Linked DNA regions of Homo sapiens: regions 1, 2 and 4 are each linked to region 3. The links come from fine-mapping of genetic effects on gene expression. A gene starts in region 3. Each other region holds a variant in brackets. All regions are shown on one strand. Distances are from middle to middle.

What was found. PIP is the estimated chance that this variant, and not a neighbour inherited with it, causes the effect. A credible set is the group of variants that fine-mapping cannot tell apart.
Region 1: its variant is the best candidate, but not a certain one, in a credible set for the expression of SCLT1 in whole blood (TOPMed, PIP 0.84).
Region 2: its variant is the best candidate, but not a certain one, in a credible set for the expression of SCLT1 in whole blood (TOPMed, PIP 0.51).
Region 4: its variant is the best candidate, but not a certain one, in a credible set for the expression of SCLT1 in whole blood (TOPMed, PIP 0.71).

The regions. Positions count from the first base shown.
Region 1 is chr4:128,910,940-128,916,095 of GRCh38, reverse strand. All of the region lies in intron 18 of SCLT1 (sodium channel and clathrin linker 1), which reads left to right. Among named protein-coding and RNA genes, the nearest start is that of JADE1, 100 kb to the right of the region's middle. RefSeq lists an enhancer at 2,596-2,775. The variant A/G (reference allele first, on the strand shown) is at 2,853.
Region 2 is chr4:128,955,274-128,960,429 of GRCh38, reverse strand. It overlaps SCLT1 (sodium channel and clathrin linker 1), which reads left to right. Exons shown (of 21, transcript NM_144643.4): 12 at 653-830; 13 at 3,306-3,404. Among named protein-coding and RNA genes, the nearest start is that of SCLT1, 140 kb to the left of the region's middle. The variant G/C (reference allele first, on the strand shown) is at 2,145.
Region 3 is chr4:129,090,350-129,095,505 of GRCh38, reverse strand. SCLT1 (sodium channel and clathrin linker 1) reads left to right here and starts at 1,967. Exons shown (of 21, transcript NM_144643.4): 1 at 1,967-2,436. The coding sequence starts at 2,403. It also overlaps a transcript of C4orf33 not described here. RefSeq lists an enhancer at 1,703-2,272.
Region 4 is chr4:128,967,005-128,972,160 of GRCh38, reverse strand. It overlaps SCLT1 (sodium channel and clathrin linker 1), which reads left to right. Exons shown (of 21, transcript NM_144643.4): 10 at 1,693-1,783. Among named protein-coding and RNA genes, the nearest start is that of SCLT1, 120 kb to the left of the region's middle. The variant A/G (reference allele first, on the strand shown) is at 2,526.

The DNA of each region.
Region 1 (5,156 bases), 180 kb after region 3:
GTCTGCAGATGTATACAAATGGATCCAGAAACAAAAGCAGATCCCTTAAAACTCAGTTTAATTTATATGACAACTGAGTGACCATTCTTCTCCAAGCATTCTGCTAAATGCTAGAAACACAAGATGAATAAGGCTTTGCCACTAAGAACTTATTCTGTCCCATTGCCTATCTTTGTTTCTCCTAGCATTCATCACTGTCAGTAATTATGTTTTATACTTGTTTCATTACATGTTTTAAAACAGTCTGTCTTTCCTATGGGACTATCAGCTCCATAAAGTTTGTTTTATTCCTCACTGTATCCCTAGCTCTTAAAAGAGTGTCCAGCACTAGTAGATATCCAGAACATATTTGTTGAATGAATGAATGAATGAATGAATGAAAGCTAGTGAATTTTATCAATTATTGTTTCTTTTCTAGGCCAAACTCTTCTTCCAGTTTTGATCCTTTCTGGTCAAAGTAGAATTTCAGCTTTTTGAAATGCATTTGAACTTTTAAAACATGATATAATGTGCCCCCAGTATTTAACAGACCTAAGAAACTTGAATTCCCATAATTGTACCACTGCTGTATAATGAAACTTGTTTCTCATCTTACAAACTTGAAAATGCTATTGATTCTAAGAATTATTATGAAGACTGTTGATAATAAAGGAATACATAGTCCTGAACATAAGCACTAGGATTAATTGGGTGAAATAGTTTTTAAAAATCAGTATTGCTAATAATTAAGGTCATACTTCCAGAGGAGAAATATTGCACAAAACATTGCAGCTAGGATTATTCAATTTTTTGAACTCCTATTCTGAAATCTAGAAAAGTACACGTTGGCCGTATAACACAGACCTCTGTGAACTGGGCATGTATGTCCACAGGCACCAGACCACTAGAAATTATTGGCAGAGTATGTTGAATCGGTATCTATATATGAACATAACTATTTGGTTAAGCATAACAGTCTATAGTATAGTGTTGGGCACTTGATAATGATTCTTTAAATGTTTACAGGTAATTTATTTAAGAATTATTGAAATGTGATTTTTAAAGGAGTGTGCTAGCCAGCAGTGCAACACCAAAGAAGAATCCTTTCAACTTGAATTCTAGTATGCCGTGCCCCTTTATGAGCAAGCAGAGTAGCCCATATATGACTAACTTAAAGGAGTTTACTAGAATGAGTTGTGTCAAAAAACCTCATCAATCTTGCTACTTGTTATCACACCATCATAGCTTAATTCATTTGAATACTGAAAATTATTTGTTTGTGTGGGCTTTTTGGCATTGATTTTAACTAAAATTCAAATACTGTAGAAGAAACTATAGTTTCCAATAACCATGATCTTGAAAACAACCTAAATGTGGTCCATAGAATGACCTAAATGTGGTCCATAGATTGCTCCTCTTTCTGTATCCCCTTTGTGCACCTCTATAGTCAGCTTTCAGATATGTTTGATTATTTCTCTTCTTTCTCCTTAATGTTTTCAAATCCATTTGCCTTCATCCCCGCTACTCCTATATTAGATCAGATCACCATCATCTCTGACCTCTCTTACAAACTCTTCATTTATCCCTGGACTGCTGCAACAGCTTTTAGATCTGGTTTCACATGTATGTCCAATCTCATTTCTCATCACTTCCTATTTTTTATTACTCTATTTAAGATTTTAGAGAAACATCTATCACATTAAGGATTTTTTATTACAATAAAAGATAATATTACTAGTTTCTTTTTTTTTTTGAGACGGAGTTTCGCTCTTTCGCCCAGGCTGGAGTGTAGTGGCTATCTCGGTTCACTACAATCTCCACCTCCTGGGTTCATGCCATTCTCTTGCCTCAGCCTCCAGAGTAGCTGAGACTACAGGCGCCAGCCACCATGCCCAGCTAATTTTTTTGTATTTTTAGTAGAGACGGGGTTTCACCGTGTTAGCCAGGATGGTCTCAATCTCCTAACCTCATGATCCACCTGCCTCGGCCTCCCAAAGTGCTGGGATTACAGGCGTGAGCCACCGCGCCCGGCAATATTACTAGTTTTAAAGATCAAAATGATATCCAAATCGCCCAGTGCTTTAGAAATAGCTGCTAAGTAGTAAGCCAGCTAGTCACTTCTCTTTGTGGGCAGTGGTGAGGAGCGGGTGAGTACCAGTACTCTGATACCTGCTTTGCTGTTATCCAGCAAAGACTCATACCTTTTAAAAGACAATACCAGTGAACAAAACAGGCAAAAATCCCTGCCCTCATGGAGCTTTCATTCTAATAGGGGAGACAAACATTAATTGGTCTCAAATTAAACAAGAGAAATTAAATATGTGATAGATGGTGAGTGCTAAAGAGAAAAATAAACAGAAAAAGCCAATAGGCACTGTATGTATTTTTGAGAGCGCCCCATTTTAGAAGAGGTCAGCAGAGATAATCATCCTCCACTCTCCTGCCCTTCTTTCTCTTCTTCCTTGGCCAACCACAGCCCTGTTTAAATATAACTCGTCTTCTCTGTAGCTTTACTCATTCAGCTCAAGGTGGCTGGAAAAAACACACACAGCCATTCTGGGTTGTCTCACTTTAAATTCATGACCACAAAAGGGACCTTTAGTGCTGCAAGACAATCATTTTATATATTCTACTCTCTTTGGTGACTATTTCATACCCTTTATTCTGTCCTCAAATCTTTTTGCAACTCCTCCCCCATCATCCCTTTTAGGCAATAACTTCAATTCCTGTTTCACTGAGAAAAGAGAAGCAATCAGAAGAGAACTTCTGCAGTTTCCCACACTGCAGTTATATTTTCCCATGCCTGTGTTTCCTGTCAACTTGGCTGTAATGCTCCAGTGTAAGAACAAACTCTTCATTTGTCCCTAGATTTT[A/G]TTTTTGTTTTGCTGTAGTGCCTCCTTGTTAGATGTTCAGTTAAATACAAAGAATTGTTTTAAAAAACAATTTTCCACAACAACAGAATGCCGAACGTAGCAACATGAAATGGTTAACTACCCTGAGAGAAACAAATAGAAATAATTCATGGAATAAGCAATTTGAAGCAAACCAACAAACCTTCTAAAGAAAATTCCTACTTAAGTGAAATCTTGGCTTTTAAATTTATTTGAACTTTCTGCCAGCACTGGCCAGATATGCTCAGCAAATCACATTTGGTAACAAAGCCCTGCCTAGCCTAAATAGTCAAGATTGCAGTTTATATCTTGACCAGTGGTATATGTGAATCCAGTAAATCCAGTAAATATCACTAGGATTTTTGCCATCTTTTTTTCTTTCTGTTTCAAAGCTTACCTCCTTTTCTGCCCAGCCTTAAAAACCAAGTCTTGGTAAAGGACAACACATTGAGACCCTGTCTCTATTTATATATATATACAAAGAAAAAGGAGGAGGAGGGCGAAGAGGAGGAGGGGAAGAGGAGGAGGGGAAGGAGGAGGAGGAAGAGTAGGAGAGAAAAGCCCATGTACTTACTTTTACTTGCACAAAAAGATTACTAGTTCTAGAAGGCAGTAGATTTTAGGCAAGATTTATATATATGAATTGTATCCCTCCTTTTTGGAGAACATAAATAATACTGAAGATTATGCATGAAATCAATAAAATGTATCTACTGAAGTATTTTCACTGACCTATCTTACCTATTGGTCATAATACAAAATTCTATGACAGTCATAATAGATTTATAATTTTCAAGTTAAAAAATTTATTTTTAATTTTAATGAAAAAATACGTTACAAAGGTGATAATCTACCCTTGACATACAATAGCATCCATATTGAGCATCAGTAAAGTACCAGACTAACTGCTAGATGGTACTTCCATATCTCTGGGGAAGAATTCATTTGTTCTCCTTAGAAGTGTTTTTGTTTTTAGTGATTCAATGGTATAGTCCAAGTCTTGAACCAATTAGGTCTTTAATTAATAATAAATTGCAAAATAAACTACAGAGCATTTTAAAAGTAAATGGCTTGTTTGATGCATTTGACTCTCCGTGTAATGATGTCTCTATATATACCACAGCATTATATATTCTAGCATTCATATCAAAAGTGTTATTACTCGCTTTCAAAAGTGAGCCTTTTCAGGTTAGGGCTCAGCATCCTGCTTCTCTGTGTGCATTATTGTGATGTATTAAGCATCAAAGCTTTCCCCCTGAAAATATGCCTTTTAAAAAGTGCTAGCATTCCTTGGTCTCTAAATTAGTTGTATGCATTGAATCTTGAAAGTACTTGGCTGTTTGCCTCTGTCCTCTCTACTTCATAAGAATTGAATTCTTTTAAGTTGCTATTTTCTTGCTTGCTTTTGTCCACCTATTTGCTACAGTTAGGAGAATATTAGAGGCAAAACCAAATATAAGTATAGTCATGATATACGTAGTCCTCCCTTGACTTGCTTTATTCCCCGTGGAAACTTCTATACCTTTTCGCAACTGACAATTAAATATGATTACCAGTACCTGTGATTTTTAAAATTATCTACCCATAAGTAACTATGGTCAAAACTAAATGTAACACCAAATAATTAAATAAAATAATTTTTTCATAGGTAATTTTTCATCTTAGTATCGGAGAACTTAGGATCAGAAGCTTTTTAAAAATTTGAGTTTCTGTATGGTATCTTTTGGTTTGAAGTTTAATTTGTAATATCTTATTAATTCCTCTATAATTATCCCCTCTTAGCTACTACTACTTTATCTTGCAATGTATGTATCACAAAGAATTTTGAGCTTCAAAGAAGAAGCTGTTTTACTAGTTAACTTATTAGTGTATAGTATCTGTAACTGCAGTATATATGTACTAATCTTACTTAAATGAGAGATTGTTGTTATTTTATTTACCTATTTATTATATTTTTTTGAGACGGAGTTTCATTCTTATTGCCCAGGCTAGAGTGCAATGGCACAACCTTGGCTCACTGCAACCTCCGCCTCCCAGATTCAAGCGATTCTCCTGCCTTAGCCTCCCGAGTAGCTGGGATTACAGGCTCCTGCCACCAGACCCAGCTAATTTTTTTGTATTTTTACTAGAGATGGAGTTTCACCATGTTTGCCAGGCTGGTCTCGAACTCCTGACCTCAGGTGATCTACCCACCTTGGCCTTCCAAAGTGCTGGGATTACAGGCGTGAGCCACCGCACCTGGCCTGTTGTTACTATTTTTATAGATGAAATCAACAAACCTCTGTG
Region 2 (5,156 bases), 140 kb after region 3:
TGATGAGATTTCTATATTATTGGATGAGAAAAGCAAGTACAGAAAAGGGTGTATACTATGATTTTTATTGTTATAACAAAAGTTTAAAAAGCTCCTGTCATTACCTGTATGTATAATATGTGTGTATATTTATGTGTATATGTGTATGAGTATATATATATATGTACATATGATCATATGAATATTGAGAAAATTATTTTAAGATATACATTAGTAAGTTAACATAGCTTGTCTGGGTAGAGAGTATGAAAGGAGAGAAAAGAGAAAAGACCATATAAATGTAAAGAACAACTCATTTCTTAAGGGTTTGCTTTATATCATTGTCATGTAACTATATAATACAGTGTGATACCATAACAAGTATAACATAATTAGGATCAGAAAATCCAGGCTTAGTCTCAGCCCCACTGCTCATTAGCGCTATGATCTTAATCAAATGCCTAACCTCTCTGGGTATGTTTGTTGTTCTTTAAAATGAAGGTATGGAGATAGTAAAACCTACTTTATAGAAGGGTAATGAGTATCAAATGAGAAAATATTAATACATGTGAAAGTTACTGGCATAATACCTGTCCTGTAGTAGATGCTCAGTAAATCTCCCTCCTTCCCTTTAAAAAAGTTTAACTTTCCCAGTGTAATTATTGATTTCTAGATTATGTGTGACAATCCAAGAAGCCAACCAATTAAGAACCGAAAATACACATCTGGAAAAACAGACCAGAGAGCTACAAGCAAAGTGCAATGAATTAGAAAATGAGAGATATGAGGCTATTGTAAGAGCCAGAAATAGCATGCAACTCTTAGAAGAAGCTAACCTTCAAAAAAGTCAGGTAAGAAAGCTAGTAAATATGTTTAGATATAATAAAATGTTGACTATTCTCCCATGTGACCTCACAGTAAGGGATTCAATAGCTGTTGAATAAATGCATGAAAATGAAATTGCTACTCTTTTCATTAGTAATCATCCATATTCTTGGATGGTAAAACCAGATATCATCATATGATAAAACATCAATTCTTTTCTAAAATAATGTATAAATATCAGACTTTCTTATTCTCCCAGATGCTGCGTAACTAATCTTCATCCCCTGTAGTCTCATACTTAAAAAAAAAAAACTGTTAACAGTGCTTTACTTCAGTATACCCTATATTTTATTCAGTTGAATCTGATAAATCTTACCCGTCTCTATTCCCCTTCATCATATACTCAATTACTTTATTAAAGCGGAAGCTTAATTAGCTTTAAAGATTTATTTACTGAAGGCTTCATGTCACTGTTCTTTTTTAATTCTCTAACAATTGTGATTCCTGTGCTGTCAAATACAGTGTTCCTTGTCATATACTGCTTCCCTATGAATGATACATTTAAGTTTATTGAAGTCACAAAACAAATGTTTTAATGTTTATTTTGCGGCCTCCCTTATGTAGAGTTCATTAAATCATTAATTTATTTACCAACATTCATCGAATGCCTAGTATATGCAGAATACGGGTACAAAGGAAATGCTTTGTTTTATTTTTATTTCCCTTTTTACAGAGGATTTTTCAAGAGAGCTCTAAAACAGAATATAGTGTAAGTTGGATATTGAGAAGCTCATAAATAAAAAAAGAATTAATTATCTAAATCCTAACTGTGGGGATGCTAAGGTGTTTATCATGCCTTTCAACTAATATTTTCATCTGTGATCTGAATACTGTCTTTTAGAATGGTTAAGAGGAACACAATAGACATAATATGCTTGGGAATTGTGTCGAATACCTAAATCAGCTGGAAAAATTAAGGTCAAGAAAAAATTTTTATCTCTACCCTCTGAAGCCTACTTGTATGAGCACTCTTATACCAAGCCATTAAAAATAAACATCTTGTGTAGAGCACAGTGGACAGAGAAAATAGTAGGAACACTCATTGCCCATCCTCCTCCCAAATCTTCTCACTCAAATCTTAAGTCAACAGACGCTCACAGAGGCTGTCTATGGTTACAATATTAAGCTGCTCTTTGACTCATTGCTTAATTGCTAGAGGGTTCCCATCTTCAGTTGCTTGTTCAAAGTCAAAGGTTCTCCCAGCCGATCACACAAACAAGGCAGGAAGTACAGCCTAGCATAGTTCCCCTTCTCCCCCTCAAGGTTATTACATAAGAACA[G/C]CTGTTACTTCTCACTAGCTTACTTGTTTAAGGTGGAGGAATTTTATCTTAAAAAACAATTTTTACAAAAACAGAGGTAAAAATGTGTATGGTACCTTTGGAAGATGGTGGGAACAGAACACAGGGCCATTTACATGTTGATTTAAAATGGATTCAATTTGGCCTAATTGAAGAAGTTCCAAGCCCAGAAAAAGGTTTGTGTTAGAGATGTAAATATGGGGATTGTCAGCATATAAATGATATTTAAAACTGTGAGATTTGATTAGACCACTAAGAGAAGGACAGATAGAGAGGGGGACAAGAAGTGAACCTTGGGTAGTCCAGTATTAAGAGGTTCAGGAGATGAGGAAGAATCAGCAATGTAGACTGAAGAGGAATGATCAGTGAGATAGGAGGAAAACCGGTACTGTGTGTGATGTGCTGAAAATCACATGCAGAAAGTACAACAAGGAGAGGAAAGTAAATATTTCAAGTGCTGCTGGTAAAGAAGTACTGAAAATTTACTTATAGATAATCAATATGGAGATCATGGTGGTGAAAGCCTGATTCAAGGGAGTATAAAAGAGATTGAGAGGAAAAGTCTTGGAGATGAACAAGTTACAGAGTTTTGCTTCTCAGAGAAGCAAGGAAATGGACTGTGACTGACAGCAGAGCTAGGATTATGGCAATATTTATTTGGTGGAGGATGGAAATGATTGGAATTATAGAAATACATCAAAGAGACAAAACAAGTAGTGTCTGCAATGATCAAATTATGAGTTAATGAGTGACATAATTTGAATAATACTAAATAATGGAAAGAGAGAGAAATTCAAGAGATTCTTATAAGGATACAATACCTAGATTTGATTATTTACTTTATATAGGGACTTGAAAAAATGGAAAATTCAACAATGGTTTTAAGATTTCTGGCTGTAGAGATTAGAAGGGTGTTAGAAACACTGGCTGAAATAAATACCATAGAGAAAGTGTCTTTAGTTAGGACAAGGGCAGGTGAGGAGGTTAGGGAAAATAAATATCATTCGTGATTTCAACATGATATTCAAGTAGAGATGTCCCAGAAGTTTTGAATAAGGAAGTGACTAGTGGATAGGTTTTCACCTGTTATTATCTTTACTAATAATAATGTTATCTATAACATGAAATGATTATTTTCTGAAGGCTCTACTTGAGGAGAAGCAAAAAGAAGAAGACATAGAGAAAATGAAAGAGACAGTTTCTCGGTTTGTACAAGATGCTACCATAAGAACCAAGAAAGAAGTAAGGATTTTTAATTATATTTAAAATTCAGAATTTAAGTCACAACTAAAGACTAAATTCTACCTAAATATTTGTAAATTAAAATTAAAATACTTGCCTACATAGTTATAAAGACTCCATATGAAATTATTAACCTAAGTGTTTAAAAACTAACTAAAGGAACTGAGTAAAGGCTCCTTTCCTTTAAAATTATCTCCAGTAGGATAGTGGGATATACTGTATAGCCCTCCACTGGATAAAATAAAGATGTTCCTTTTTTTTCTTTATCTGTATTTTTTGTGGGCAATATTATTTCTCTCCTAGGTGAACTGTAGATTTAAACTGGTTTTCAAAACTTCCATCAGTTTAGAAAAAATAAAGTTAAAATGTTTGCTTTCTCCCAAGCAACTAAGTGGTAGAATTTTTATTTCCATAAAGCCACTGTACAACATTTCTTCCTGCAGAAGTATTTCTTAGAAATCTATTACTTTTACAGAATCATGGTGTAAAGAAAAAAATCTATTACTTTGTCTTATATGACTGAAATTAGATAGTTTCCCAAGATAAAATTTTTAATTTAAGGCAGAGTCCAAAGTAAACCCTGGGCTTTTTAATTTGTCATCTTCTATATCCTTTCTGCAGGAGCTCTGTCTTTCCTATTTGTGAAGTTGAGAGTACTGTAACATTGGACTATAGCCTAAAATATTCTTGATGACATATTTTTAAAATAAATATTAATAAACTTTATACTTTTAATGATAAAAATATTTTATTAAAGTATTCTTGGTATGAGCATTCCTCTAATTGTATTTTCTTATCCTAAAATAAATTCAAATTGATTTTGAGGTTGATGAAGGTCATCTTTTGCATGAAGCTTTAAATAATCTAAGTAGAATTTTTCAAAAGCATTGTGATCTCATTCATTCCAAATGTTTTGCAAACGGAAAATACAGATGCTTCCTAAAATCCAATTATTTCCCTATTCAAATATGTAGTCCTACCAGGCATCTGAAACTCAACATGTCTGAAACTGAACTTACTCTCATAGTCAGTCCCAGATTGTTCCTTCCTTAGGTGTTCCTGTTGATTTCCTGTAGCCAGCCTTTCCCTGCCATTACAGCTATTCACTCAGGAAGTATTTATTGAGCACTTCCTGTGTGCCAAGCATTTTGCTGCGTCTTTGCCCCCTCTGAGTTCCACACTGTTGCCAAGTTGATTTTTTTAAGTAAACTTTTAAAATTATTATTAAAAGTGATATATACTCATTGTAAAAAGAAATGGAAAATATGTATGAGAAAATATGTATAAATGAAAAATATGTATAAAAGAAAATTAAAATTACAAGTTTAATACCCAGAGATAGCACTATTTTTAGCATTGTTCTGTGAATTTCATTTAATCCCAAATTATTCACGGCATGTCCTTCAAATATGTAGAATTAACCTGTTGAATTGAGAATAACTTTACATGTATCTCTTCCTATTGACTAAAGTAAATATAATGAATAAATTGTCACATATTTCTGTTCTGGCTATAAAATTGAACAAAAATATGACGTGGCTTATTTCTTTAAAATATGAAAATACTTTATTTCTTAGATATCTCTCAAATAATTAAAATTTGTAAAAAATATACATTGTTCACTTTTGATTTTAAATCATGGCTGGTGCCATTATTGGATTTTCCTATTTCTTAATAGTTTATCTTACTATTTGGTTTATAAATGTCCTTACTATTCATAAAATTATAGAGGAAAAATGCTTATATAAAGTG
Region 3 (5,156 bases):
CAAACTACATACATTTCTGCTTGTCATTCCTTGTATTCAATTTATACTAATAGATACTTTTCATGAACATCCACTGAATTCTTTCATTCCTTCCATCAGATATTTAATCAACTCTGTGTTCCAGGTATTATGATGGAGCCTGGAGACAAACTACAAAACATGACAGATAATGCAGGAAGGAGCATGAAGTAAGTACTAAGGTGGCACCTACCTTGGGAGAAGTGGATAAAGAACTCAGGAGATGTGAAAAGGAGGAACATGAGAGGGGATCCTTTAAGGATAAGTGAAATCATCACAATTTTGTTTCCTAATGATGAAACTTATGTTGAAAATACTCCATTAAAATTCAACTACTAAAATCTTGTAACCACAAACACAAACGCAAAAACAAAAAACTATCATGATCATAATTATGATCATGTAAGCTAAAAAATTCGAGTGCAGACATAAAAGTTTTCACCTGAGATATTCACTTTATGTAAATACCACTCATCAGTTATAGCCAGAAGGTATTTGCTTCCATCCAGTTTGGGTGTAAGCGTAGAGTTAAGTCTATAATTATTTATTTGATGCCAAGTAGAAATACGACAATATACAAGGTTCAAATGTGGGAGAAGTTACAAGCAAGTCCTTGGAGAGTCAGTGAGATGTTTATGAAGAAAGAGTCATATACTGAACTTCAAAAACGAGTTGGACCTTGCACACTCAATTTTCCCTTAGCTATAACGTTTATACAAAAAGTTTTTGTGTAAACGTTATAGCTACTAAAAATCAGAACAAGTTCAATTATCACCAACTCAAAGCTGGATTAGACCTTTTCAATGATTATTAAGCTACACATCCATATTTAACAGCTAGTCTTTAGAGGAAGGGACCATCTCATTCTATTAACAGTGAGTATTGAGTAAGGCCTTCAGATGCCTAACTGCATATATTTGAATACATTTTTAAAATTTCTTAACACATATCGCTAAGGTTACTTTGTTTATATGACATTATGAGTACGGGACAACAAAACTCTTAAGCCGTTAAACAGAAAGCCAAATCAAGCTGCATCTATGACATGCCTGTTTAGTGAAACTTTACTTCAGTCCATAAAAATACAATTTATTAAAAGCACAAAACTAGTGGCTAGCTTCAAGTTAACATTTTTGTTGCTAGTGGTGAGATTTCCTCTAATGTTAAATGATTTTTTTTAAAAAAATACGTTTTAAGTCCAGACAAAATTAATTTTCAAAAATGAAAATTGTAATCTATCCACAAATGTAAGTTTTACCGTTTTGTTTTTTGCAAAAAAAAGTACCTTTTATCTTTCCTTATATTTGAGGAAACAAGCTTATCTTTGAAGAAGTAGCTGCTGAATTTGCAAGATCTTTTGAGTACTTCTAACTACACGCTTTATTACTACACAGTTAAATATTTAAACAACAGTTGTCTCCTTTGTCTAAAGACCCACAAAGACCGAGAAGGTACTTACCTTCTTGAGATGACCAAATCCAAACCTAGAACTCCTCCAGAGGTACAGCCTTGGTGGGAGATTCTGAAGACGCCAGTCTGGCTTCTATCCCTAGCCGCAGGAACCTGCATCTTTTACTTAGTCCAGAAAGGCTTAGTATATTAGTAACCCAAAGATAGTGAGGGCATTTAAACTGTGTATTTCATTCTCTACTCACGTTTGCATTTTGGTTTTTTGTTTGTTTGTTTGTTTGTTTTAAAGAGGTTGGGCCTCACTACCTGGAGACACTGTCCCACCAGTTTGGCCGCCGCGCCAAGCCGGTGGCTCAGCCCGCTGTCATCCAGGTTCTCACGACTCCTCCCATTGCTTGACAGCCAGCCAATAGCGTGCTAGGACTCTAGGACGCGCGATGGCGTAAGCTCCAACGCCCGCGTGATGACGCAAGAGGCGCCACCGTCTCCAAGGAGTGGTCCGGGGCACCGGTTTCAAAGTCGCAGGGCGGGCCGAGTGGACTTCCGCTGCTGGCCTGGGGCTTCCCAGCCGTCTTGGCGTTGTCCTCTCCAACCCCCGCCGCTCCGCGTAGAACGCCGCTCTCAGGCTGCCGTCAAGCTCCCGCGGCACTCTCCTAGGTGGCCCGACGAGACCCAGAGTGACCCGCGGGACGCCTGTATCGACCGCGTCCTCTTCCCACCAGCGTGGGATTCGGTTGAACGTGGAGTCCCCAGCAATCTTCAGTCTCTCACCAGGGCCAGGGACTCGTCTGGGGCGCGGGGGAAAGAAGCGTGGCGGGGCTGTAGATGCCGCGTGAGTAGGATGCAGATTGCACCGCTGGAGCGCTTGACAACCAACCGAGCGTTGGCTTAGTTTTGTTTTCCCGCACAGCAAGCTCTCTGTCTTTCAGAGGAAGGTAAAGGTGGTGAAAGCTCTAAACTAAAATTGTATCGAAATGGCTGCAGAAATCGACTTTCTGAGAGAGCAAAGTAAGCTCCATGTTTTTTTGAGACTTCATATACAATGTTTAATATCGTCGTCGTTGACCGACAAATCTTTTTTGAATGCTGGTTGGGTACATTTAAATTGGTAAAGAGTTAAAGAAGTTAGTTGCAGGAAAAAAAAAACCTTGATGTTATACGTGAGGATGTGTGTATATTTAAGCAGAACCGTGTGGTAGTACTTGTAGCTTACACAGAATTCTACTAGACGCTAAACATGTTTGTTATGCTCCTCTCGTGCTCTGAAGATTAGAAGGCTAATGGCCAGCAGGAGTTTCCAAGTGTGCATTTAAAATCTAGGGGCACAGCTCTCTGGCCATTTATTAAAAAGATGTTTATTGAACTCCTGTTTCTATTATGTACCAGACACTATGGAAGAACAGCTGCTGCAAAGATAAACAGGACAGTTTTTACCTCCAAGAATTTAATTTGGGGAGGGAAATGTATTCCAAAATATATTGAAGTGACAGCAACTGCTGGCTCTTTTGCCACAGTCTCATAGGGTTGTTGGAAAGATTAAATGAATATTAAAATATGTAAAGGATTTAGAATAGTATCTGATACATTGTGTTAAACAAATATTAACTATTACACGATTATTATTAAAATATGTTCAAGGAAGGTGCTATTGGGCTGAAACGTGCAGTACAAATATGAATTTACTATATGAAAAACTCTAGGCATCCCAAATAGAACAATATTTGTGACACTGAGGGGATTAGGAATATGCTTTGTTAAAGACTTGCAATACGGCTGGTTTGAGTGTAATATTGATGTAAATTGAATTGGAATATTTATATAGGGAAATGGCAAGTGCAGTTGAAGGCGTAGAAAGGGGCTGGATGGTGAAGGGCCCTGTCTTCTCTGTGCTAAGGAGTATGGACCATTGCATGGGTTATAGGAATTCAGTTGAGAGTGGCATGATCAAATTGTAGTTTAGAAGGCCCGGTCTGATTTTTACGGGGAATATGCATTATAGCAGAGTGCAGTTAGTTGTCTACTGTCATCATTCAGGTAAGAAGTAAACTAAGTTGGGCACAGGGAGACTGGAGATCAGGGGATTTGAGAGAAAGAGGTAGAGAGCAACTTAGTTTTTGCTTGAGCAACGGGGAAGTTAGGAAAAAGGTAGTAAGTTCCGTTTTGGTAGCATTATAGACCAGTGGTTAAGAACTCAGTCAGCCTCTGGATTTAGTCTGTCTGGGCTCACAGCCTACCTCTTTCCAGGTCTGTGACCTCGAGCAAGTTTCCTAGCTTTTCTGCACCTCAGTTTTCTCATTTATATAATGAGTATAAGAACACAAGAATCCTCTTGAAGTTGTGAGACTTAAATGAGATGATGAAAAAGCATTGAGCATAGTGTCTGGCACATATTAAGTGCATGGTATATGTTATCTAAAATAATTAATGACACTATAATGACACAATAACATTAGCATTATTTCTTAGGTTTGCAGTGGGAATATCCCCACCCCATAAGAACAGCTAACTGGCCACCGTAAGAGTAGTGTGGGACAGGAATTGGTTGATGAGGAGTTTGGCTAGAGTCAGGATAGTACTTGAGGTGGTCAGAAACTATTAATTTTATAAGAATGATCCAGCCAGAATTCTTAGATAAAACTGAGATCCAAATACCAGGGGAAAACAAATAAGACAACTGAAGCATAGTAACATTTTTTTAAAAATGAGTGGTATTTAATAGTTCCATGGAAGACAAGTGGAGTGCAAGAAGGAAATCTCAAGCAGAAGGAGCAGAAGAAGGAATGGTTCAAAGGCTTAAAATAACTGATTTTATTCAGGAAATCGGAGCATAGAATGGTAGCGTTTGCATGAAGAGATAAGAATGAGAGTTGAGTGTCTGTGTCGCTCTCCTTTTTTCTTTAACCGGATTTTGCATGCCATTTGAAGGTGGTGGGTTATTCCATTAAGTGACCCACCTAAATACCAGCCCAGATAAAGATAGATCACTTGCCTTCTTTCCACCTGCCTCTGACTTTTTCTACACTGATTTCTGTTGATCTTGATTGTCTCTTTGTTCCGTTTGGATTTGGGAGCCCAGGTCAAGACCATTTGTTTTGGTACTTCTCAACTCATGTTTTGGTACTTCTCAACTCATGTTTGGTACTTCTCAACTCTCATGTCCCCACATGACATTTCCTCTGATAATTACTATTTCAGCTTTACATATCATAACGACAGGCAGCTCCACACTCAACCAGGCTACTAGTAGAGTAAGCTTGTAGCATATTTGCTGTGCACCGTTCTTCCACCTTTGTCTGGGAAAGATCAGTTAGTTTTTAGGAACCTGTTCAAAGAGGTACTTGCATTATCAATCTAAGGAACTAAGAATTCATTCATTAGTGGGGTGTGAGACTCACTGGCAGAGTGGTGATGGACTTATTTTTTCTTTTCATTCTCTTAATAGTGTTGGAGCCAAACATTTTTAATTTTGATGAAATTTAATTCATCAATTTGTTCTTTTATGAATTGTGTTTTTGGTGTCATAAAAGAAATCATTGCCTAACCCAAGGCTGCAAAGATTTCTTCTATATTTTCTTCTAGGAGTTTTATAGTTTTAGGTTTTACATTTAGATCTATGGTTCATACAGTTAAATTTTATACAAGGGATGAGGTAAGGATCCAGGCCACTTTCTTGCATTGGATGCCCAAATGGAAAAACTACCCTTTCTCCATTGAATTACCTTTGCTCC
Region 4 (5,156 bases), 120 kb after region 3:
GATTGTAGATATACTCCTGAAATTATCTCTCAGCCTGACGCAGAGATTTTACATGAATAATGTGGTTTTTATTTTGTCCTTAGGGAATCATTTTGCAAATGAAAAAAACCTATTTTTGTTTGATTTTTTTTTTTTCTTTGAGATGGAGTCTTGCTCTGTCACCTGGCTGGAGTGCAGTGGCACGATCTCGGCTCACTGCAACCTCTGCCTCCCAGGTTCAAGCGATTCTCCTGCCTCAGCCTCCCAAGTAGCTGGGACTACAGGCACGCGTGCCATCACACCCACCTAATTTTTGTATTTTTAGTAGAGATGGGGCTTCACTATGTTGGTCAGGATGGGCTCAATCTCTTGACCTTGTGATCCTCCCACCTCGGCCTCCCAAAGTGCTGGGATTACAGGCATGAGCCACCGCACCTGGCCTGTTTGATTTTTTTTATAATCTTGGTTAATTTAAAGCAAAACATTTTCTTAAATGCCTCATCATATAAAATATTATTAGGACCATGTGAGGGTAGGCAGTCTGTCATAGGGGACTCATTAAATACTAGTTTTATTACGTATTGTGAATCCTAGGGCATATTAGTAAACCTCTATCAACCTTGCTCTCCTCTACTTCAGTTTGATATAATAGTAGTATTAATTCACAGTTATTATCGAGTGTCAAGTGAGATGACTGCAAAGCATTTACAACAGTCCCTGGCACTAATAACTACCTGAGATATTATCAGCTATTATTAGATTTGTATTTTCTATTGTAGGAAATTTATAACTATATAAGTAATGCAGTTTTAAAGACAAAGAGTCAAAAGGAAATGAACTAACATTTACTTGTGAATTTTGCATCAAATAATTTCTGTAAGTTCTATAGCACAAATATGATTTACATTTAGATACATACATAAAATGTAATTAAGAAATAGGGAACAGTTCCTACACTACAGTATTTTTTTCTTGAAAATGTATGTTCTTTAGATAATCAAAGGGTTTTATACTCACTTAATGCTTAATTATGATGATATTAAAAATCATTTTTTCTGTTTAAGAAAGTCATATTATTGTTCTAAAATCATTTCCTATGAGGAGTTAAGAAGATATTGAAACTTATTTAATTCTGTTAGAATGTTCAAAAAAATTTATCTTTTTCATTTGTTGCCAATACAGTCTCTGAAGAAAATAAACATTGTATTATGGTGGAACAAATGTTTTAATTTATGTTGTGTTTACATAATACAAACTTCTGGTGTCTATGGAATGATCAAGGTATTGAAGTTTAAGTTCATTTTCATAGAAAGTCCAATCAGCAGTATATCTCCATCTCCATCTATAAAGATATTATAGACATAAGTATATTCTTCTTAGTGCACTGGAGCTCTTGTTAGGTAATGTATCAAGATGATAAAGTGCTTTTTCAAGAAACTTATTGAATCACTTTGGTATATAATATAATTTACCCAAGTACAGCATTCATGACCTCTACTTCATACCCTTCGCCATTCAGCTATATTTTTTCCTCTTTAATATCTTCTACATGCACTTCATTAGTAATAAAGGAATCTTCCAAAATTTATTCCATGGATCCATTTTAGATAAACAAGAGTTAGAACTGATTTTACCAAATTCAGATTTCTATTCTAATTTTTTATTCTTAGTGGTCTATGAAAACAGTGTTTATTAATTTACTTTATTTTTTAGGCAAGCCAAATTAGAGCTGAGAGTTGCTGTAGCAAAAGTGGAAGAGTTAACTAATGTGACTGAAGATCTGCAGGGACAGATGAAAAAGAAGGTATTTTCTATTTCTAAGACAAATGGGTACCTATTGCTTAGTTTTCTTTCTATTTTGTTGATTTATTTTGGATTAGGTGTTAAAGAGGGTTGTCAGAAGATGAATTAATTATTTTAATACCCTTAAAATATGAAAGTAGGAAGCTAAACTATATTATTGAAAACAACTTTATAAAGAATTTTTTATTTCCATTCTCTATAGCCTAATTCAATAGAACGTCATAATCACACCTAAGCACATCATTACTGAAACGCAAATTGATACAAGATCAAGTTTCAGTTAACTGGTTATTTGCAGGTGGAAAACAAGCATTTAATACTACTTTTATGTTATTTACTAAAGTATTTATTGACACAATAGACTCTGGTTCTTTTTAATATGTAATAGAGAAATTTCAGAAGGATGTCAAGGAAAAGTCAGGCTTTAGTTTTAGATAGATATAATTATTGAAAATTCTCACTCTGGGACTTATTAGCTATGTAACTTTCTAAGCCTTATTTCCAATCTGTAAAAAGTTGATTATAGATTTCTAATAATGGTAGATTTTCTAAGTGTTACAAGAACCCTCCCATAGGTAACAATTTTAAAACTTGGATAAATTTTTAAAACACCAGAAAGCACCCAAAACAGAAAGAAGTAAAAGAAATAAGAATTGTTAAATTTTGGATGTCTGGCCTGATGGTTCTCCCAACCCCCACAGCTGTGGCTTCAGAAAACACCTTTGTATGGGCTTAAGGTACCC[A/G]GGTCAAAGTTTAGGGCTAGAAAAGCAGTAGGAAATTTATTTTATTTTATTTTATTTTATTTTTGAGTCAGAGTCTCGCTGTGTCACCCAGGCTGGAGTGCAGTGGCTTGATCTCGGCTCACTGTCAGCTCTGCCTCCCGGGTTCATGCCGTCCTCCTGCCTCAGCCTCCCAAGTAGCTGGGACTACAGGTGCACGCCGCCACGCCTGGCTAATTTTTTGTATTTTTGGTAGAGACAGGGTTTCACCGTGTTAGCCAGGATGATCTCAGTTTCCTGACCTTGTGATCTGCCTGCCTCAGCCTCCCAAAGTGCTGGGATTACAGGTGTGAGCCACCGCGCCCGGCCAGCAATAGGAAATTTAAAGAAGAAATACTGGCAGCAAGAGAAACACACAGAAAAAGTGAGAGCCAAATTCTGAGTGTAAATTCTTACCAAATTCATGCCTGACAACTAAATTATGCATATGGAAGTGGGGGAGGGACCCCAGAGAGGCCAGTGAAGAAGCAGGCAGAGACCTAAGAGAAATTTACTTTTGAAAGATAGAGATGTATGGAACTAGATATTTGAGTTTGCTACTTTTTATAATTGAATACATGCGAGAAATGTGTGCAATTGAAGCATCAGCATACTGAAGACTTCCTTATTGTTTGAAGTATCAGAGGACAAAGCCCAAAGCTGGAAAGGCAGCTGGATATTACAGGGGAATCTGTAGAAGCGAGGGAACCACAAAGATGATGAGCCCTAACTCTGCCCAAATCTTGACTGATCTTCAAATTATGTAGGCACAGAGCCTAGTTATAAAAGCAACAGTGGAAAGCAGTAAGAACTAATTACAGATATCAGCTGCTACCTACTGTATGTGGAACAGATTTCAAATTTCAAGACCAAGCAAGATAATTGTCTACTTGAACTAAAAAAATAAAAATAAAAATTTAATGCTCAAAAGAACGAAACAGAGTAACTGCAATGTATTATCTACACTATTGAGTTTTCAAAAATTACTAGACAGAAAAGTATGACCTATACTTGTGGGGGAGGTGCTGAGGGAGGAAGCCATTAGAAACTGACTTTAAATGGATCGATCTGTTAGATTTAGCAGACAGAGACTTCAAGTCAGCTATTATATATATGTTCAAGGAATTAAAATCTGTTTTTAAATTAAAGTCTCTAGGAAGAGATAGATAATTTTAATTGAGAACTGGAACACAATTTTTAAAAAAGAAACTCTAGAGCTTTAAAGTTCAGCAACTGAAATAAAAATTTCACTAGATGGACTCAAAAATAGATTGGGAAAGACAGAAGAAATAATCAATGAACTTGAAGTCAGATCAATAGAAATTTCCCTGTCCAAAGAACAGAGAGTTTAAAAGATTGAAGAAAAATGAACAAGAGCTCAGAAATCTGTAGAACAATGTGAAGCAATGCAACATAAGTGTAATTGGAACTGCCAAAGGGAGGGGGATGGGAGCAGAAAAAAATTAAAGAAATAATGGCTGAAAACTTCCTAAATTTGGTGGAAAACATTAAAATTTAAGAATCTCAATGAGTAAACAAAATCACTTTGAGATACATCACAATGATACTGACAGCCAATTATGAAGAGAATACCTGAAAGTAGCAATAGAAAAATGACCTGAACAGAGAGGCAATGATAAGATTAATGGCTAAGTTCTCATCAAGAAACTGTGGAAACACTTCTGGACATAGGCCCTGGCAAAGATTTTATGTCAAAGACTCCAAAAGCAATTCCAACAAAAAGCAAAAATTGACAAGTGGGACCTAATTAAACTAAAGAGCTTCTGCATACCAAAGGAAACTATCAACAGAGTAAACAGACGACCTACAGAATGGGAAAAAATATTTGCAAACTGTGCATCTGACAAAGGTGTAATATCCAGCATCAATAAAGAACTTAAACAAATTTACAAGAGAAAAAAAAACATTAAAAAGTAGGCAGCGGACATAAACAGACACTTTTCAAAAGAAGATATACATGTGGCCAACAAGCAAATGAAAAAATGCTCAACACTATGAGTTAGAAAAATGCAAATCAAAATCGCAATGAGATACCATCTCACACCTGTCAGAATGGCTATCATTACAAAGTCAAAAAATTACAGATGCCGGCAATATTGCTGAGAAAAGGGAATGTTTATCCACTGCTGGTGGGAATGGAAACTAGTTCAGCCACTGTGGAAAGAGGTTTGGAGATTTCTCAAAGAACTCAAAACAGAAGTGCCATTCAACTGAGCAATCCCATTACTGGGTATATAACGAAGTAGTATAAATCATTCTACTATCAAGACACATGTCCATGTATGTTCATCACAGCACTATTCACAATAACAAGGAGATAGGATCAGCCTAGATGCCCATCAGCAGCAGACTGGATAAAGAAAATGTGGTACGTGTACACCATGGAATACTACACAGCCATAAAAAGAATGAAATCATGTCCTTTGCAGCAATATGGATGCAGTTGGAGGCCATTATCCTAAGCAAATTAACTCAGGAACGGAAAACCAAATACCGCATGTCCTCACTTACAAGTGGGAGCTAATCATTGAGTACAAATGGACGCTAAAGGGAACGATATACACTGGCCCTACTGGAGGGTAGGGGATGGGAGGA